Linked DNA regions of Homo sapiens. The protein of the gene in region 2 purifies or fractionates together with the protein of the main gene of each other region. This does not show direct contact. Each region holds a gene or a part of one and is shown on either strand. Other genes may lie near its edges.

Region 1 (3,500 bases), on a different chromosome or scaffold from region 2:
GGCCTCCCAAAGTGTTGGGATGACAGGTGTGAGTTACCGCGCCAGGCCAGTTTCTTTTAAAACAATGAACATCTATAAAAATAATTTAGCTTCACTGGGCGCCATAGCTCATGCCTATCATCCCAGCACTTTGGGAGGCCGAGGTGGGCGGATCATGCGGTCAGGAGATCAAGACCATACTGGCTAACACGGTGAAACCTCATCTCTAATAAAAATACAAAAAAATTAGCCGGGAGGGGTGGCGGGCGCCTGTAGTCCCAGCTACTCAGGAGGCTGAGGCAGGAGAATGGCATAAACCCGGGAGGCGGAGCTTGCAGCGAGCCAAGATCACGCCACTGCACTCCAGCCTGGGTGACAGAGCGAGACTCCATCTCAAAAAAAAAAAAAAATTTAGCTTCTACCCCAATATGATCTCAATTGTGTACTTTTATAGACAGTCACCTGTGTGTCTATGTCTGTGTTAAAAAAGGTCTGGGCCAGGTGCGGTGGCTCACATCTGTAATCCCAACACTTTGGGAGGCTGAGGCAGGTGGATCACTTGAGGTCTGGTGTTCGAGACCAGCCTAGTCAACACGGCGAAACCCCGTCTCTACTAAAAATATAAAAATTAGCCAGGCGTTGCACGCCTGTAGTCCAAGCTACTCAGGAGACTCAGGCAAGACAATCGCTTGAACCCACGTGGTGGAGGTTGCAGTGAACTGAGATTGTGCCACTGCACTCCAGCATGGGCAAGAGAGCAAGACTCTATTTCAAAAAAAAAAAAAAAGTCTGAAAAGAAATGTAGTAAAATAATGGGAATGTTATTTTTCTCAGGATAGTGGGATTATTGGTCATTTTCTGTTTTATACAACCCAAGCTTCATTTGCCTTTCAGCAATTCAGTCAGCATGTAGACCCAGAATACATACACTCACCTGCTCACACACATACATAATATGCCACTTACACACAAATATCCCACTCCCACATACACACATCCCTGATCCTGCAGACACATGCTCCCACACATCTCACCGCACACACATATTACACACACACACACCAGCTCACATATGTAACTGCTCACACACACACATGCTCACTCTCATTCACACACACTTTCACTCAAATTCAAGGCTAAGAGACTGGAAATGATACAGGGCAAATAAAAGGCGATGCCAGGCTGGGCGCTACGGCTCATGCCTGCAATCCCAGAACTTTGAGAGGCTGAGGCCCGAGGACGGTCGCTTGAGCCTGGGAGTTCAATAATATGCCTGGGCAGTATCACTATACTATACTTCATCTCTACAAAAATAATTTTTAAAAATGTTTGTATTTTTAGTAGAGACGGGGTTTCACCGTCTCCTGACCTCATGATCTGCCCGCCTCAGCCTCCCAAAATGCTGGGATTACAGGCGTGAGCCACTGCACCCAGCCAATTTTTTTAAATTAGCGGAGCATGGTCATGCCTGCCTATAGTCCCAGCTACTCAGGAGGCTAAGATGAGAGGACTGCTTGAGCCCAGGAGGTGGAGGTTGCAGTGAGCTGAGATCTTGCCACTGCACTTCAGACTGGGTGACAGAGTGAGATCCTGTCTCAAAACAAACGAACAAAAAGGTGCAGTCAAATGTCCCTAGGAACTTCCTACTGCCACCATTAGCGGTGCAGGAATAAAAAAACGTAGGGAGATCTGAGCATCGACACTTCCTTCGGCAGCCTATTTCTGCAAGTACTGAAGACAGACAATGCCTACCAAGGTTACTGAAGGACATTCTCTGAAAAGAATCAGTGGCTATTAAAACGCAACTGCTTAAGTGACTGTAAAAATAACATGTAAATTACAGTTATAATCTTTAAAAACAAAACAAAATTAAAGTAATCCTTTCTCACAACACTCTTAGAATTTATTTTACAATCTCTGCTTCATGATAGGTGGCAGTAAATACAAAAGCATCAGTCCTCTCAGTATGAAGGGGTCATGTCAATCTCCAGAGATGGTTGAAGCCTTAAAAATCACCTATTCCAACTTCATACCTAATTCCTGGACACATCTGACTATAAATTCCTGTTTCAAAAAAATATAACCAGAAAGCTCCACTTGCTCCTTTCATGTGCTGATTTCTGCTAACACAACACTGTGTTATATTACACTACACCTGATCTATCACCAGATGACGTAATTAGATCCAAACACACCATGACATTGCTAAAGAAACAGGGACACAAAAGCCATCTGTATTATAAACAGGAGCTGCTTCTATTAAAAATTCAGATAATCCATTTAAATAATTTAAAATGCTACCTTCATAAACAGATTACATAGAAGATACTCAATATGCTACCTCTGAAAATTTGATAAAAATTAAGATACTTGGCCGGGCACAGTGGCTCATGCCTGTAATCCCAGCACTTTGGGAGGCCGAGGCGGGTGGATCACCTGAGGTCAAGAGTTCAAGACCAGCCTGGCCAACATGGCAAAACCGTCTCTACTAAAAATACAAAAAATAGCCAGGTGTGGTGACGGGCACCGGTAATCCCAGCTACTCGGGAGGCTGAAGCAGGAGAATCGCTTGAACCCGGGAGGCAGAGGTTGCAGTGAGCCGAGATCACACCATTGCACTCCAGCCTGGGCGACAGAGCAGGCGAGACTCCATCTCAAAAAAAAAAAAAAATTAAGATAATCTAGTTGTTATCATCAAGGACAGTAATGTGACTGGACTAAGAGTCTCTCATGTGCTCAATATTTTGAAATCTCAAGGTAGAAAGTACAAAAACTTATGACCTTTATTGCTGTTATCCAGTTAATCTGAACTGTTCCCTAGCGTTTTTAAAAAAATCATTAATGTCTTTAAAAGAATCGGTATCTTTTGGAAATATATACTGAAGCATTTATGGAAGAAATGATATAATGTCAGGAACCCACTTCAAAAATCATCTGGGGGTAGTGAGTGGTGAGTTTACAGATGAACCAAGACTGCTAAAACTGAGCAATGGCTACAGGGTTACATAACATGAAAATCAACCTTTCTTTACCCTGTAAATTATCTGTTGCCAAACAGTAACTTAGCTTTAAGAAATCAAGAGCTCTCCTCCATCCCAGGAAGCCGGCCCAAGTCCAGGCACTCAGATCACACCCAACATTGCTTCTTCCTAAGCCGTCTAGAAGAACAGACAAGGAGTAATACCACAGGAGATCCCTTCCACTTCCCCATCCTCACCAAATCCCAAGTCATCCAGCCCTTGCCCCCAACCTTCGAATTTCATCAAGAGCTCTTGGAATTCAGAGTGAAGAATTTTGTCTCATTTCTACTTTGTGATGACAAGAAAGCTCAGCCCCAAATAGCAACACAAAGTTTTTCCCATTGTGATCATTAAGGGAGGTTATGACAAAAGATGTTTCTCAAATAAAAAGAATTGTATGAAAGTCAGTAAGATATTATCACAATAGGGATATTGTGAGCCACCACATCTAAGAAGAGGCATCTAAGGTCTAAGGGCCAAAAGACCTAGTTCTACTCCTGT
Region 2 (3,500 bases):
AGCAATCCTCCTACCTCAGCTTCCCAAGTATCCAGGACTACACGCATGTGCCTCCATGCCTGGTTAATTTTTTAAATTTTTCTGTAGAGACAAGGTCTCACCATGTTGCCCAGCCTGGTCTTGAACTGAGCTCAAGCAATCCTCCCTCCTCAGCCTCGTAAAGTGTTGGAATTACAGGCATGAGCCACCATGCCTGGTGATTTACAGATTCTTCGGGTAGACTGAGAAGCAAGTCAGGTGTTACTCCCTTGTTCCCTAACTCTTCAAATACTTTTCTATCCACTTGCTCTTCCTGTCTCCCTTTAAATGCCTGCTATAACCTTTTTATTTTCCACTTTAGACTATATTTCCTTACTCATATAACATTCTACACACAGGTCCTGTGCATCTCACCTTTATTTTTATTTTTTAGAGACAAGTCTTGCTCTGTTGCCCAGGCTGGAGTGCAGTGGCATGATCATAGCTCACTGTAACCTTGAACTCCTAGGCTCAAGGCATCCTCCTGCCTCAGCCTCCCGAGTAGCTAGGACTTTAGGTGTGTGCCATCATGCTCAGCTAATTAAAAAAAAATTTTTTTGTGCAGATGGCGTCTTGCTGTGTTGCCCAGGCTAGCTTTGAACGCCTGGCCTCAAGCAATTCTCCTGCCTCAGCCTCCCAAAGCACTAGGATTACAGGTGTGAACCACCTTGCCCAGCCATCTTTATTTAATATTAAAGTCTTGGCTAGGCGCAGTGGCTCACGCCTGTAATCCCAGCACTTTGGGAGGCCGAGGTGGGCAGATCACGAGGTCAAGAGATCGAGACCATCCTGGCCAACATGGTGAAACCCCGTCTCTACTAAAAATACAAAAATTAGCCAGGCGTGGTGGCAGGCGCCTGTAATCCCAGCTACTCAGGAGGCTGAGGCCGGAGAATTGCTTGAACCTGGGAGGTGGAGGTTGCAGTGAGCCGAGATTACGCCATTGCACTCCAGCCTGGAGACAGAGTGAGACTCTGTCTCAAAAAAAAAAAAAAAGGCCGGGCGCGGTGGCTCACGCCTGTAATCCCAGCACTTTGGGAGGCTGAGGCAGGCGGATTACCTGAGGTCAGGAGTTCGAGACCAGCCTGACCAACATGGAGAAACCTCGTCTCTACTAAAAATACAAAATTAGCTGGGCGTGGTGGCGCATGCCTGTAATCCCAGCTACTTGGGAGGCTGAGGCAGGAGAATCGCTTGAACCCGGGAGGCAGAGGTTGTGGTGAGCCGAGATCGCACCGCTGCACTCCAGCCTGGGCAACAGAGCGAAACTCTGTCTCAAATAAATAAATAAATAAATAAATAAATAAAATTAAAGTCTTGATATATTTTTCTGGTTACAGGTATTTTTTTACCTTCCCTTTTAAACTCGAAGTTCCCAGAAAATAAAGGCCAGTAAATACCATGCCAGGCTTCACTTAGAAGAAGGCAGCTCTAAAACAACCATCATCAACCCTGCTGAAGCTGTGCCGTTTCTCTGGTTGTCTGACATCATGACATCACACCCTCTTTCTCCAGTGCCGTGGCTGCTAACATATAATGGAAAGAGCTCTGGACTTGAAGGCAAATAGGCTGGGGTTGAAAATCCTCATTCAGCCTTTCAGAAATGTGCAACTTATGCAAGCCATTTATCCTCAACTGCAAATTGGGAAAAAACACTTCCTTCTCATTGTTGCTATGTGGAACAAATACCATCACGTGTATGAAAGAATCTAGCACAGTCTTTGATACATAGTAGTACTCAATATATGCTAGTTGAGGCCGGGCACAGTGACTCATGCCTGTAATCCCAGTGCACTGGGTGGCTGAGGCAGGTGGATCACTTTGAGGTCAGCAGTTCAAGACCAGCGAGACTCTGTCTCAAAAAAAAAAAAAAGAAATGCTAGTTGAATCCTCATCACCTAAAAGGTTACTAACCAGTGTGTGTGTAACATAAAACTTATATTATTTTATAAGGGAAGCAAAGAGTTCCAATTGTTTGAGAATCTTCCAGAAATACTTATGACAGCCTTTTCTGCCCCAATACCACTCCCCCCACTGTCATACACACATTCTAACAACTGGAGGGACAATTGAAAAGGCAAAAAGAAATCAGACTAGGACTCATAGATCTAGGCCTTCCAAAGAACAGGGAGGAACAGGAGTCACAAAACAAAGAACACCTCCTCTGGAGGGACTGTTGGAAGGAAGTTCAATGAAAGAACACTGCTGACCAAAGCCACTGCTCTCCAAGAACAATCCTTCAGAGCCTCACCAAATCTGGAATCAGTGCAGAACTGGGGAAATTTCATCAGATCAACCTGGCTCCAGAATCTGACTATAGCTAACAAAGGACTCAGACTCAGAGGCCTCTTCACAAAAATGCTAATAGAGTGAGTCTAAGACACACTCAAGAGCATGAGCAAGAGGAAAGATTTTGTAGAGTTGGAATACAGGTAATTTCAAAATATTAGTGACATCACCTTCAACCCCGGTGACCCTGGATGCATATACTTTGGGTAGGTGGAATAAGGAGGCCTAGAGATTCTTTAGTCCCTCTGGGAGGCTGTTTTCCACCACCACCCTTCCAGTGTCTGTTCTTGTACGTCTGAAATGTTAAGGTTACTTTTTTTTTCTTTTTGAGACGGAGTCTCGCTCTGTCGCCCAGGCTGGAGTGCAGTGGTGCAATCTTGGCTCACTGCAAGCTCCGCTTCCCGGGTTCATGCCATTCTCCTGCCTCAGGCTCACAAGTAGTTGGGACTACAGATGCCCGCCACCACGCCCGGCTAATTTTTTGTATTTTTAGTAGAGGCAGGGTTTCACCATGTTAGCCAGGATGGTCTCGATTTCCTGACCTCGTGATCTGCCCACCTCGGCCTCCCAAAGTGCTGGGATTACAGGTGTGAGCTGCCGCGCCCGGCCCCAGGTTACTTTTAACTGCCCAATATCATATAGTCCAGCTCCCTGCCTCCCAGCAGTCACCACTAAAGTTTTGCAGAAAGACGGATGGGGAACTCTTCTGTTCTCAGAGATCACCAAAAAAGGCTATTTCTGTTTCTTTCTGCCAACTCTGCCAAGCAAGTTCATTCCTGAATTTAATATCCCTGATGCAGATTGAGCTTGGTATTGGTAAGAAGGTGGCAACTCTTTCACTATGCTCTCTCCCAAAATTAGGTAGTGCCCTCTGAGCAGTAGAACCAGCATGGCTGCCTATGTGGATCTGTCCCTACTCGCAACTGTGAGTTGCACAGGAATAATAAGAAGGAAGCTTTAATCATTCCCTGCCACACCTTCGTAGGGCACTCTCATCAGAGGGTCACCGATTCAACGGGGACCACTACCTTTTAGGTCTGCTTAGAAACTCATGTGATAGCCTCAATCATCTTAAACAATCAACTTCTTTTTCTCAGTCTCTATGTTTGGTACATCCTTTCCTCTCCCTCTAGTCCACAGACTTTTAAGTCACTGAAAGCTCCTAGAAGTACACTTTTCAAAACTTTCAAGGG
Region 3 (2,855 bases), on a different chromosome or scaffold from region 2:
CCCACAATGGAGTACACACCAATCCGGATCACCTTCCCAGGCCAGGGATTCCCCTTCTCTGGTAAATGCACCTTCCACTTGGCCAGTTGTTTAGATCAGAGAGAGGAAATGACCCAATGCAGGCTAATGAACAATTTCCCTGGGGAATATGGAATTGTAATTGAAAGTCTAACAATAATCTGACTTCTCCCTTGTACAAATTTAGGAGGCTACTGGACTTGGGACATTATCTGTTATGTGGATCAGGAAACAGAGAAATCCAGTCAGGTGAAAGACAGAAACAGATGAGCAGGAAAAAAGGTAACTTCCTGCTTGCTCCTAAATGGTCCAGTCTCTAGTCTCAGTCTGTTCTACAAATCCAGTTGTTCCGTGGGTTCTGTGAGCCTCCACCACCTCACCCCAATTATCCTCTCTTTGTTGGCATAGGTGGGTTTCTATTATTTGCAAGCAAATAACTTAAAGCAGATTTACCTTTAAAAGAAAACACTGGATTCACTTCGTATTGGAAAAGTAATTATTTATTATGACAAAAATAAAACTGTTGAATGAAAACAAATGAATGTTACACTATATTGCACCATGATTGGAAATGAGCCAAAACCTGTCTAAAAGATGAACATTCCAGAGCAAACAGCATCGTTTTACTTGGGTTAAGTAGGCATGCAAACAACTCATTATAACATAATTGCAGAAATAAAAATTATGAGTACTGGCAACCTAAACTTAACATATAAAAGAAGCACTTCATAACTAATAAAGTATTAAAAACTTTAAAACATGTCATTTAAACAATCCCACCATCAGGAAAACATGCTTTGAACCATTTTCAAGAAGTGATCATGTGAATGCATTAATTTACTTGTTTTAAATTTTTTGTTGTTGTTGTTAATGCTTATATATTGGACCAATGGAACACATTTGTTTGGCTGGGGTTCAGACACACAGTTTGTGGTGTGAAAGACATTTTTCTTTCCTCTGCACAATACCGGAGGACCCACAGAGCAATCCAATTCCTAATTCTGACCTTATTAATACCATCTTCCAGTTGACCAAGCATAGTAATGAAGATATTCTTAGAGCTTTCGCAGAAAGCCTGAAGCTTAAGGAGTAACAACAGTTTGTATTTAAATCTTAAGAAATGCACATATATATGAATATAGACACTTTAAAGTTGTTTTGCATTCTGAGGCAAGAAATAATAAATACTGAGTACAGGGCCTGCTGCTTCCTCTTTAATGCTCTAAAGCACCAATTTATGTTAAAATAGCAAAGTGTGATTATAATCATTCACTCTGATTAGAATAAACGCAACACCAAGGTTGTAATTGCTGTTAGGTTTTTGTTGTTGTTGTTTTTAACATGCTCTGTGGAATAGATGAACATGGTAAAATTTGTAACTATTCTGTAATTGAAAAAAATCATGACCGTTTTATTTTACACTTTCACTGAAATAGCAGCTAAACTTTTTTTAAGTCATAAATAAAAGTTTTTGTAACTACACTCAACAGTTTACTCCAAGAGAATAAAATAGGGGCTTCAGAGTCCCTAAATTTCCTGAGGGAAAATATAAGATTAAAATGATTATGGTCTCTTGTGAATAGGGCTTAAATATGCAAATAAGTCACTGATGACTGGGATCAACTGATAGTCATTTGATATCTTACCAACACTGATGGAAATATATTCACAGTATAAAAGAATCCATCAAATTTAGGATTTCTCCTTTCCCTTATCTAATTAAACTAATTAAATATTGACTGAGCACTTTCCTATGTGCTTTAATGAAACCATATGTGAATCTCATATATCTACCATGTTGGCCCAGCTGGTAAACAAGAGTAAAACAAAACAAAGTCTCCAAGGAATGCTATCCCTTAGTTATGAATTTTGCATATTTCAAATACAGTTTGGGTGAAGGGGGTTTTTATGGGATGGTACAAACATCCCACAAACTTGAGCAAAGCACCTTATGGATTGAAAAATGAGGTAATTTTTTAATTAAAATTTTACAAGTTGTGCAAGAAAACATATCCATTCTTTTAAAACTTTGTTTTCTATTCCAAAAGCTATGCACAGCACATTTCATATTTCTCCATTTCCAGGAGAAAATGTAGATTACTGGTTTAAGAAATGCAAAAGATGCCTTTATGTGACTACAGTTCCAAATTCTAAAACCCTAATCAGTCTTCACTCCTTTGGCCACATTAAGAATAATACAGGCCATCTAGCTGTATGGTAAAAAGACAGTATTTTTTAGTAATTTTAAGTACCCTAAATACGAGGAGAGGCAGAAATTCACTGCTTTCATTCACATTTTCTCTTACCTAATATCCTTTTGAAGTTTTTTCGACCTCATGATATTGTCTTTACTTTCAAGTGCTTTGAATTTGTTTTTCGTATGCTTCTAAACCTCCAAATTAATATTTCCCAAATGTTTCACCAAACTATATACATTTAAAGCTGCCTTTAGGTCTGAGGGGCACAATTTTTTTTTCTGCTTTAAATTTAAAATGGAATAGTTGAACATATTTTTTTATATTGGTCTTCCTCTATTTATTTTGGTCCCCTAAAATTTTTTAAAAATACTTTTTTGGGGAACCTGGCTTTTGGATTTCAGTCTTCACAGTAAAAGTGAATGAATAAGGAGGAGACGCTACTGAAAAACTAACCTTGAATATAAACCACTTTCAGATTTATGTAGACATTTATGTAGACATTTGTAAAAGACTGACAACCTGGCTACTAACCCTACTCTTTCAATATGGAAAGTCACACAGAACTATAGACTGGGGTGGCATCAAACGGCAATAAACTCTGAACAAATTAACCACTTCCATTCAATTAGTACAAGCCAA
Region 4 (3,500 bases), on a different chromosome or scaffold from region 2:
GGTATAATGTTTTACTCACTAAACAGGCCAAAAGTTCTTAGTCTCTTCCTGCCCCACTCCTCTCTACCTGCCAGTTTTAAAGCCAGGGACTTCCTTGATAATCTGTTCAAAATCACAGATCTTTCCCCCCAAAACACACATATGCATATACACAAAATTTTTTTAAGTTTATGTACAATTTGAGGGTGTTAATAAATAGCCTAAATTCCCTACATGGATACTGGGCCAAGAATCCATGAAGGATGTACTCAATTAGCAAGTGAAACCCTCATAAAATTCTGCCTGTTACATATTAAGAGATATAAAATTAAGGTTTTGGTGCCACACTTGCAAGTTTTCACAACTGTTGAATGGCATTTGTCTTCTTAGGGATTTTACTGAGATATTTTGGTTTCAATAATGTATGTGTTTGAATAAATAAAATCTTCAGCAGATACAAAATGACTTTTGTTAGAATACAGTTTTGATGATTCTTTCTGATGCAAATAAAAACATTAGTAGTATATTTGTATTTCTTATTTGGTTAAAGGAGTTATGTAAAATATTTATATAACAATCAAGACTGACTTTAATTACAGTGCCCTCTGCAGGATGGCAGCTATTAATGCTACCACAGTTTATATAGTTATCTCATTAAGTATGGTCAGAAAGGAATACTGCTACAATGTTTGCAATTTTAAGATTTCATGTTCAACTAGTTTCACCTATATTTCAGTTCACCTGCCTATATCAAAGGCAAAAAACTTGAAGAGATAAAGTATAACTTGTATACATATAGTCATTATCAAGGATATACAGTAAATATTTTTTCTTTTCTCCTAAACAGAAAATGAAACCATTCATCAGCCAGGTGTGGTGGCTCACACCTGTAATCCCAGCACTTTGGAAGGCCGAGGTGGGTGGATCTCTTGAAGCCAGGAGTTTGAAACCAGCCTGGCCAACAGGGCGAAACCCCGTTTCAACTGAAAATATAAAAATCAGCAAGGTGTAGTGGTGCACACCTGTACTCTCAGCTACTTGGGAGGCTGAGGGATGAGAATAGCTTGAACCCAAGAGGTGGAGGTTGCAGCGAGCAAAGATAGCGCCACTGCACTCCAGCCTGGGCAACAGAGTGAAACTCTGTCTCAAAAAAACACAAAGAAACCATTATCAATAGTTGTTATGTGGCTGAGTCAATAAGTAGATGGACTTTCCATGGGATTTAATTCCTAACTTCCTATCTTCTCAGTTTCAGTACATCTTGCTAGTGTGTGCTGAAGTCTTATATAGGTCAAGTTTGCTAATGTTGACATGTTGAAGGAACAACCTTCTGACAAATACTTGGCACAAGTTAGGACACACGGTTTATATTATTATAAGTAATCTGTATTCACTCTTAATGATGAAATTATTTGTAGAAGCCCCTGAACTGAAAATTGAAAAACACAAAAAACAAAGCCATTTAATAAAAGGTCTCCAAATATCTTAAATCAGTTTTTCTAGATCTAAAAGGTTCAAACTTTAATTTAGAGTTCTTGACTTCTAAGAAGTTATTTTATCAATTTTTACATATTTAGAAAGAGAAGAAAATCTTCATTTGCTTTTTATTATATAACCTCAAAACCAAATATGTATATATTAGAACAGTAGAAAATAGATATATTAAATTAAGGCTGTTCATCAACGTGACTTAACAAGAGGTCAAAGTATAAGGTGAACAACGGTGATCTTTTGTACATAAACCATTTCAAACACTTTAAAACCACTTCTGCTACAAATTTCTAGTCTAAGATATATTTTAGTTTTATCAAGGAGATGAATAACAGCAATTGCAAGACACATTTACTTAGCATCTTCTATATACCATATATAGTTGTCAATTTGTTTCTTAAAACTTCATTTGGGGACTGGGCGCTCACGCCTGTAATCCCAGCACTTTGGGAGGCTGAGGCGGGCAGATCACCTGAGGTCAGGAGTTCGAGACCAGCCTGGCCAACATGGTAAAACCCCGTCTCTACTAAAAATATAAAAAAATTAGCTGGCGTGGTGGTGGGCGCCTGTAATCTCAGCTACTCTGGAGGCTGAGGCAGGAGAATTGCTTGAACCCAGAAGATGGAGGTTGCAGTGAGCCGATACGGTGCCACTGCACTCCAGCCTGGGCAACAGAGTAAGACTCTGTATCAAAACAACAACAACAAAAAAAAAAACTTCATTTGTGAAGGTAACTCCTAGAAGTTGAGTCATTCTGAATAAAATTTCAGACTTTGGTGTTTGGAACCATTTTAAAATTAATGAGTTCTAAAGTTGTATACTTCATTTATGATAAAACTTTGAAAATTATTTTAAAATTTTTACAGTTTTGTATTTTGTAATAATGTAAAGAGTCATTATCAGTGATGACAATAAGATTTTGTTGATTTATGTAGTATGTAAGAAACATCCAACTAACATCATGTCTACATTTATTTTTCACTCACACATTCTCACTCTTTGATCCATTTGTCTCTCTGCAGAATTTTGCCTGTTTGGCTCTTCTTGACCCTACTGAGTACCTTGCTCAAACTCCCAACTTCATCTGTAATTCCTTTCTTCTCTGGTCATCTCCTCATTCAGTCTCCTTTCACTTTCCAACTAGGCCCTACTTAGGTCTTCTTTTTACTTCTGCTAATAAAGAGTCTGAATGAGAATACTCAAGTTCAAAACCTGGCTCTTAAAAAGCTAGTCAAGTCACATAACCTTTCTGGGCCCCAGTGTAGTCACCCATAACAGATAACGTTAAGTGACCTATGTAAGTTAATGCCCCCAGCTAGTAAAAATCAAAGACTTTGAACCCTACTACTGGGCTCTTCATATAGTGATCCTGCTGCATATTGGCCAATTAGAGTAAAAATCAGATAGGGAGACTACCTGTCAACAAAGTAAAAGATATAGTCCAGAGACAAATAACATTTGTATCAGTTTTTCTTTTTCCAAAGTCTTCATAAAACCACCCTTTGGAATAAACTGAAAAATGCTGCATTTTTGCAAAATAGGAATTTGAAAAGAAAAAAAAACAAACAAAAAAAAGCCTTTGTCTTCTGCCTCTTTTACGGCTTATTGCTTGTATCCCAACTAGCAATGAATCTGGCGAATGAACACAGAATGGCAAGACGTATTTCTGTAAATCTCCAGGAGGTTTAAACACAGCTGCTGGAATTAGAGTCCAAAATAGGAAAAGGTGCATCTTGGTGGTCATAAGGAAATGAGGAACCTCAATTTACAAAACTACTTTACTAGCTTAGGTTCCCTAAAGCCCTGAAAGGTTGCCTGAAATACACAAAATTCTTAAAGCAAATCTCAAAAGCAAATCATCAAATCAATAACAAAATTAACATAAAACTTCACTACAAAGATATCCGTGTTTTCCTAAGCTTTGCAAAAAATTCCACTGAAATAAAAAACTCTATATATCTAAATATTAACTTTTCTATTCCTATCTATAAATGAGTTGAGAAAGTAGCATCTGCAATAAGATATCCAAA

The links. The genes of interacting proteins can lie anywhere in the genome.
Region 1: the proteins of PI4KB (region 2) and RAB11FIP3 purify together in Homo sapiens (pull-down; one study listed by IntAct). This does not show direct contact.
Region 3: the proteins of PI4KB (region 2) and ARL5B purify together in Homo sapiens (affinity purification with western blotting, with the first as the bait; one study listed by BioGRID). This does not show direct contact.
Region 4: the proteins of PI4KB (region 2) and ARL5A purify together in Homo sapiens (affinity purification with western blotting, with the first as the bait; one study listed by BioGRID). This does not show direct contact.

Annotation. Positions count from the first base shown.
Region 1 is NC_000016.10:428,649-432,148, reverse strand, and holds part of RAB11FIP3 (rab11 family-interacting protein 3), read right to left. Parts: intron 1-3,500. UniProt on the Homo sapiens protein: Downstream effector molecule for Rab11 GTPase which is involved in endocytic trafficking, cytokinesis and intracellular ciliogenesis by participating in membrane delivery. Recruited by Rab11 to endosomes where it links Rab11 to dynein motor complex.
Region 2 is NC_000001.11:151,317,417-151,320,916, forward strand, and holds part of PI4KB (phosphatidylinositol 4-kinase beta), read right to left. Parts: intron 1-3,500. UniProt on the Homo sapiens protein: Phosphorylates phosphatidylinositol (PI) in the first committed step in the production of the second messenger inositol-1,4,5,-trisphosphate (PIP). May regulate Golgi disintegration/reorganization during mitosis, possibly via its phosphorylation.
Region 3 is NC_000010.11:18,679,285-18,682,139, reverse strand, and holds the end of ARL5B (ADP-ribosylation factor-like protein 5B), read right to left. Parts: 3' UTR 501-2,855; downstream 1-500.
Region 4 is NC_000002.12:151,807,922-151,811,421, forward strand, and holds part of ARL5A (ADP-ribosylation factor-like protein 5A), read right to left. Parts: intron 1-3,500. UniProt on the Homo sapiens protein: Lacks ADP-ribosylation enhancing activity.